Regions from separate parts of the Homo sapiens genome. Here region 1 is linked to region 2. The links come from fine-mapping of genetic effects on gene expression. A gene starts in region 2. The other region holds a variant in brackets. All regions are shown on one strand. Distances are between the middles of the regions. Region 1 has its middle 21 kb from the start of OR6N2. Region 2 holds the start of MNDA (myeloid cell nuclear differentiation antigen).

Region 1 (2,925 bases), 30 kb after region 2:
TAGTACTCTCAGAAACAAATATCTTCCTTTCCTTTGGCTCAGAAACTTTCCGTCTCCTACAGGAAAGCTTTTCCAATTTGAACTCAGAACACTTAGTATTTTTCTTCCGTTTAATATGATTTACTTGTTAATCTTTTTATGGTTACCTCCGTATCTTAAATTTAATATAGCAACTGCTTTCTTTCCACCTGATTCTGAAAAATAAAAGTACATTTGGGGCTATGAATGATTCAAATACCTTACTTCTGATAGATAAATGCTGTAATTCCATTATTCATCTGGACTCCATATCCATCTAAGTACATGCCCACAGAGAACACACAGCTGAGATAAGAGTTCAGATGTCAAGATTAGGATGTTGATGAACATATTGAGGATATGGATATAAGTAAAAGTAATAATGAAAAAGTAGATTAGTCTCATGAAGATGCCTGGGTAATAATAATGGTAGTGATAATGTAAGTAATGGTAATAATACTGGTGATGGAGACTTAGACAAGTGTATTAGGTATTCAACATCAATCATTTGGAACAATGGCTAAAGATAGCTGACATGGCAAAGGGAGGGACAGTGGTGAGAGTAACAAAGGTAGAGATGGTAAGCGCAAAAGTGATAGTGGTGCCTGTGCTGTGATAATATGGTGATGTGGTGAGGTTAGTAGGGATGGATGAGAAATCTCCTTGCAAAAAAAGCTTTTAAGATGAAACTCACCTCTGGGGTGCTAAAGATGTGATTCTTCATGTATTCAAGTTGGATTGTCTCTTCTCATGAAAAGCTATGACGGGGAGGCCAAGGCGGGTGGATCACGAGGTCAGGAGAGCGAGACCATCTTGGCTAAAATGGTGAAACCCTGTCTCTACTAAAAAATACAAAAAATTAGCTGGGTGTGGTGGCACATGCCTGTTGTCCCAGCTACTTGGGAGGCTGAGGCAGGAGAATCGCTTGAACCTGGAAGGCAGAGGTTGCAGTGAGCCGAGATCGCTCCACTGCACTCCAGCCTGGGTGACAGAGCAAGACTCCGTTTCAAAAAAAAAAAAAAAAAAAAAAAAAAGTGCTATGAGGGACTTGCAGAACTTCTAGAGTCCCAGAAGAGGCAGTGTCCCTGGGATTGGATTCTAGAGCCAGTGAGGGTTGCAGAAAAGCCATTTGAAAGAGAGTAGGGCTGCTTTACTTCTCTGTGTCCAACTTCCTACCCCAGAGGAGCACTTACAAAAAACTTTACACACTTAGCAACTCCAGAGAACATATAGCAAGGAGCCCCTGGGAGGTCAGCATTTCCAGGAACATGAAAT[A/G]TAAGTAGGGGAGTGTCTTGGGGTAGAAAAGATGCAGAGGAGGATGTTGTAAATTCTAATGTCATCAAAACCATCAGGTAATGGGCAGGGGTGGTACAGAAAAGATTAGAGTATCTAAAAAAGAGAACTAGGTAAAGGCTTTGATCTTTCCCAGATAAGGACTATTAGAATATGGAAAGAAAACTCCAGGGACATTGATATAGACCACCCAACTCCATATCCACCCTAGAAACATTTTTCAATGGCTTTAGAGATCCACAGACTACCAGGGTGGTGAGGGGCTTTATACAACATTTATATAGAGAAGGGGAAGTTGAAGTAAAGAAAGGAGAAATGGTTAAGCCCAATGTTCATTTTGAGTTAGTGGCAAAACAAGTTTACAAAGTCAATTTAGAAATAGAATGCTTTTTCTGTTGCGCTACAGCCCTTCTAGACCAACAATATAGGGGCCTTAGCTTACCAATTCCTCTCTCTCCTCATTCCCTTTGAGAATTCCTGATGCATGTCTCCCTTAGGAATCCTTCTTTAAAATGTACTTTGTCTGTTCATTGATTCTTCATGTAACCCTGCAGTTCTGACTTTGACAGATGGGACATTTCTTTAGGGACTAGATGGATACTTTTCTGTCTCTCCTGTTTTCTGGCAAGGTGGGTGGGAAAAAAACCCCGGCATTTAACAATTTTGTTTTAAGGAGCCAACCCACTCTCTCTCTCCCCACCGCCACCCCCACCTTTTTCTCTTCTTCACATACACACACAGACAGACCACACACACACACACACACACACACACACCAGTATGTGCAGCAACATACTGACTAACACCAAGAAACAGACTTTTTTTCATTTTGTTCTATGTACTTTTGTGATGATGGGAGGTCATGAAAAGTGGTGGGAAGGAGTGCATGGATTGGTGAGAAGTGAATGAGCAAAACAAAAGAAAGTCTCATGGAAGTGTAGAAGTGTATTGTGATCTCTTCTCATGCCTTAGACTTTAGAATGCTAACTGGGCACCCAGTTGCTACTTCTCTGAAGGTTCTCTGAAGACCAAGCGTGGAACTGTAGGATCCTACTAGGAGATTCCCTGTCTGAGGATAACATAGCCATAGCTTATTGAAGATACAAAAAGAAAACTTATTTTTGAAATAAAAACTCTCTGGACAACCTTTTAAAATTTCTTTTTAGTGATAGCGTAAGTTTTGGGTTTCCTGTTTTTGAAAAATGATGTTGAAATGCTTTCTTTCCAAATGCAGGGATGACTTTGTATTTATTTTAGCTTATTTTAAGAGAAAAGATATGTGTAGAGAACAATGTGTGTGGAGTAGCATACAGCAGCATTATCTCCCTCTCAATTTAGTAAATTTGACTAAGATCACAGAATGTTCTGGGGTCCCCACCTATTAAATGTGGATAAGTTGTCCAATTTGAGGTTTTTCTATGGCAATATACCCTCAGGTAAATTTTCTCTGAGCATCCAGCTCAGATACGGACTATATTCTCTTTTCTGACATTTGGTGGATCCTAAATAAAGGCAAACCAATTTTAATATTGTCAAACCTTGAAAATTAATGTTGTGGAGAAAAACAACAACAGCAAAATAGTAGAAATCAAATCCTTGATTTTTTTTTTCTTT
Region 2 (2,925 bases):
GAAAGAGCTGGAAAAGTTATATTCTTCAAACTCTAACTTAAAGAAAGACTTTTTAGGAAAAATAGTGTAGCTTAAAATAGGCTTAAGTCAATAAGTATCAGTACATAGTTTCACTACATAATGGTAAAGTATGCAACTTGGAAAAAGATATAATAATTTAAATTATATTATAAATATAATCTGTTATTACTTTATAAAGTAGCATATAGAAGTTTTTTCTTCTCTCTAAACACACACATAACATATATACTTAGATATACATATTCTATGTAAAAATATATGGTAGAAATCAAAAGAACTACAATGAGAAATTAACAAAATCACTATTAGAGTTGGAGATTTCACCACATCTCTCAGTTACTGAAAGAACAAGGTAAAAAATAGCTTAGATTTAGATTTAGATTTTTCAAACATAATTAACAAGCTTACTTAAGAAACTTTATCTTACTTAAATAGAATTTGGAATCCAACGTTTATAAACTCTTCTCAAGTACTCATGGAGTAATTAGAAAACATTCATATGTACAAAGCCATAAAAAAGTCAAAATGTATCCCAAAGTAGGAAATATATAATTGATTCTCCCTGTCTTTTCATTATACCTTGCCACAAAAAATGTTATCTATGACTGAGTAAAGCATAGACCATTTGAAAAAGAGAATTATTTCTTCTTACACTTGTTGTAAAATGAAGCATAAAATGAAACTGATTCATGAAAATGTAAAGATTATTTTTGAGTAAATGCTTGTAAAATTGAGAAATTAATGTGTGCACATGTCTATGCTTTTTAAAATAGAGATAAAATCATATAATAGAGATTTATATCCTGGTTTATTTTTTACTAAATATTACTTCATAATAATTTTCTTATCTGACTGTCTTGTCTTTTAACTTAGGCCCAAACCCAGTCACCAAGTCATCCTCCAGCCAAGAAAACCAAGTATCTCCTCTAAATATCAATTTATGCCAAAAGACACCCAAGAATTAATTTTTAAAACCTGCTGTAGACAAAATACATTTTTTTGGTTCATACCCCAATTGTGGTAGAATAAAAGATATCCATTTGCTACCTAGACAGTTAAAGCATTCAGTTCTCAGTTTTCTGAATATGATTGATAACAACACTTCTGGTCTCAGGCAATTATTCTCTACTGAGATGGTGTGGTTACCAACTAGATACCTAGATCTTTCTCTAAAGAACTTCCCAGAAATCTCACCTTAATGGATGCTTCTTCCACAATAGTCTTCAGAAATCCTGGAGTCACTGTCTTGTTTAGGACAGAATCACTGTCCGTAAAGCTTTGGAGAGATTAAACTGCAGACTATTTTAATCTTGTAAAGGGCTGAGAAATGAAAGCTAACAAGGAAAAATGGCACTTGTTAGAGCCACTCTCAATCTTGATTGTAGATGGCCTTCTTACACTGTCCTAATTCCTAACTAGAAAGAAGTTATGTAATCATGAAACAATTTTGAAGCCACGCCTATCAGCCTTTGTAGCTTTCTATTTCAGATGTCAGAGAAAGTGGTCAGTTCCTCTTTGTAGTAAGTAATCTCAGTCACAAGGAGAAATGACAGTAAATGGTGCCTCTTCTTCGCTTTTTTGACTTACAAATACTTGCTGAAAGGAGTTTCAAACTCAGAACTTTCTTATAAAGCTAACTTACATATAGGTCATTAGAAACCGGTAGCCGCTTGAATAAGGATCTTAATATAAATTGGGAAAGGCAAAACACCAAAGTTTCTCCCTCCTTTCCTGTTCACAGAGTGGCAGGAGCAGGAGATCTTGGTAGAGATGTCTATTGCTACCAGAACTTGACTTCATCTCTTGGATAGGGGTGGGTCTACTGTGAAATTGTTTTTGTTTAAATAGTACCTACATATTCACCCAGTTATTAATAACTGATACACCTGGAGCTTGACAGAGGCAGAAAGTCATTATGAATATGTAAATCCTTATTCAAATAATTTGAAAGAGTTTCATACTAGTTGCTCTCTTGAGTATAATAACTGAGCTGCCTTACCTTGATTATTAAATTCATGATTACTCATGCTTTTTGCATTATTTATGGATAGTTGGTTCATATCATGACTGAAACCTTGAACATTCTGGAACAGCACTGAAACTCTGGAATGATAGGGGGCCTGATAAACCCTTTGTACTGCAATTTTTTTTTCCTGTGAAGAACAGTGGGTGCACTACAAAGTATCATAACTCTGAATTGTCAAATGAATGGTATCAGTTAGCAGACAGTGCTGTGGTTACCAACTAGCTGATCTGTAAGCAAAATGTGGTCATGACTGGAAAAGGATCCCAAAACAGCTAATAGGGGAAAATGATCCAAGGCCATCTACAGAGAAGAATAAAGCTGATTGTCTTAATCCAAACCAGCAGCATAGAGAGAGTTAAAGTTTGGATTTGGAAACTGTCTAAACCCCACTAAAGCAGGGTAAATCAGAAAAAACCAAGAGGATCTAGAATGACAGCCACTAACACATGTGGGTGTTCATTGTTTCAGTTTCTCTCTTATGCTGATGCTTCGAGCAGGTCTTAAGGTAAAGGGTAAAGAGGAACACAAGGAAACCTTATCAGGTGCCCCACTTCAGTGTTTGGGAACCAAAAGAGCTCACGACAGGAGTTACCATGTTTCAGGACAGCTTTCTGCCCTGATATGGTTTGGCTCTGTGTTCCCACCCAAATCCCATCTTGTAGCTCCCATAATTCCCACGTGTTGTGGAAGGGACCTGGTGGAAGATGAATGAATTATGGGGGCAGATCTTTCCCATGCTGTTCTCATGATAGTAAATGGGTCTCATGAGATCTGATCGTTTTAAAATAGTTTTTAAAAAATGGGAGTTGCCCTGAGCAAGCTCTCTCTTTGCCTGCTGCCATCTACGTAAGATGTGACTTGCTCCTCCTTGCCTTCCA

Evidence for each region. PIP is the estimated chance that this variant, and not a neighbour inherited with it, causes the effect.
Region 1: its variant is fine-mapped to the expression of MNDA in whole blood (TOPMed, PIP above 0.99).

Annotation. Positions count from the first base shown.
Region 1 is chr1:158,800,327-158,803,251 of GRCh38, reverse strand. It overlaps a transcript of OR6N1 not described here. Among named protein-coding and RNA genes, the nearest start is that of OR6N2, 21 kb to the right of the region's middle. The variant A/G (reference allele first, on the strand shown) is at 1,294.
Region 2 is chr1:158,829,848-158,832,772 of GRCh38, reverse strand. It overlaps MNDA (myeloid cell nuclear differentiation antigen), which reads right to left and starts at 1,422. Exons shown (of 7, transcript NM_002432.3): 1 at 1,216-1,422. It also overlaps a transcript of OR6N1 not described here.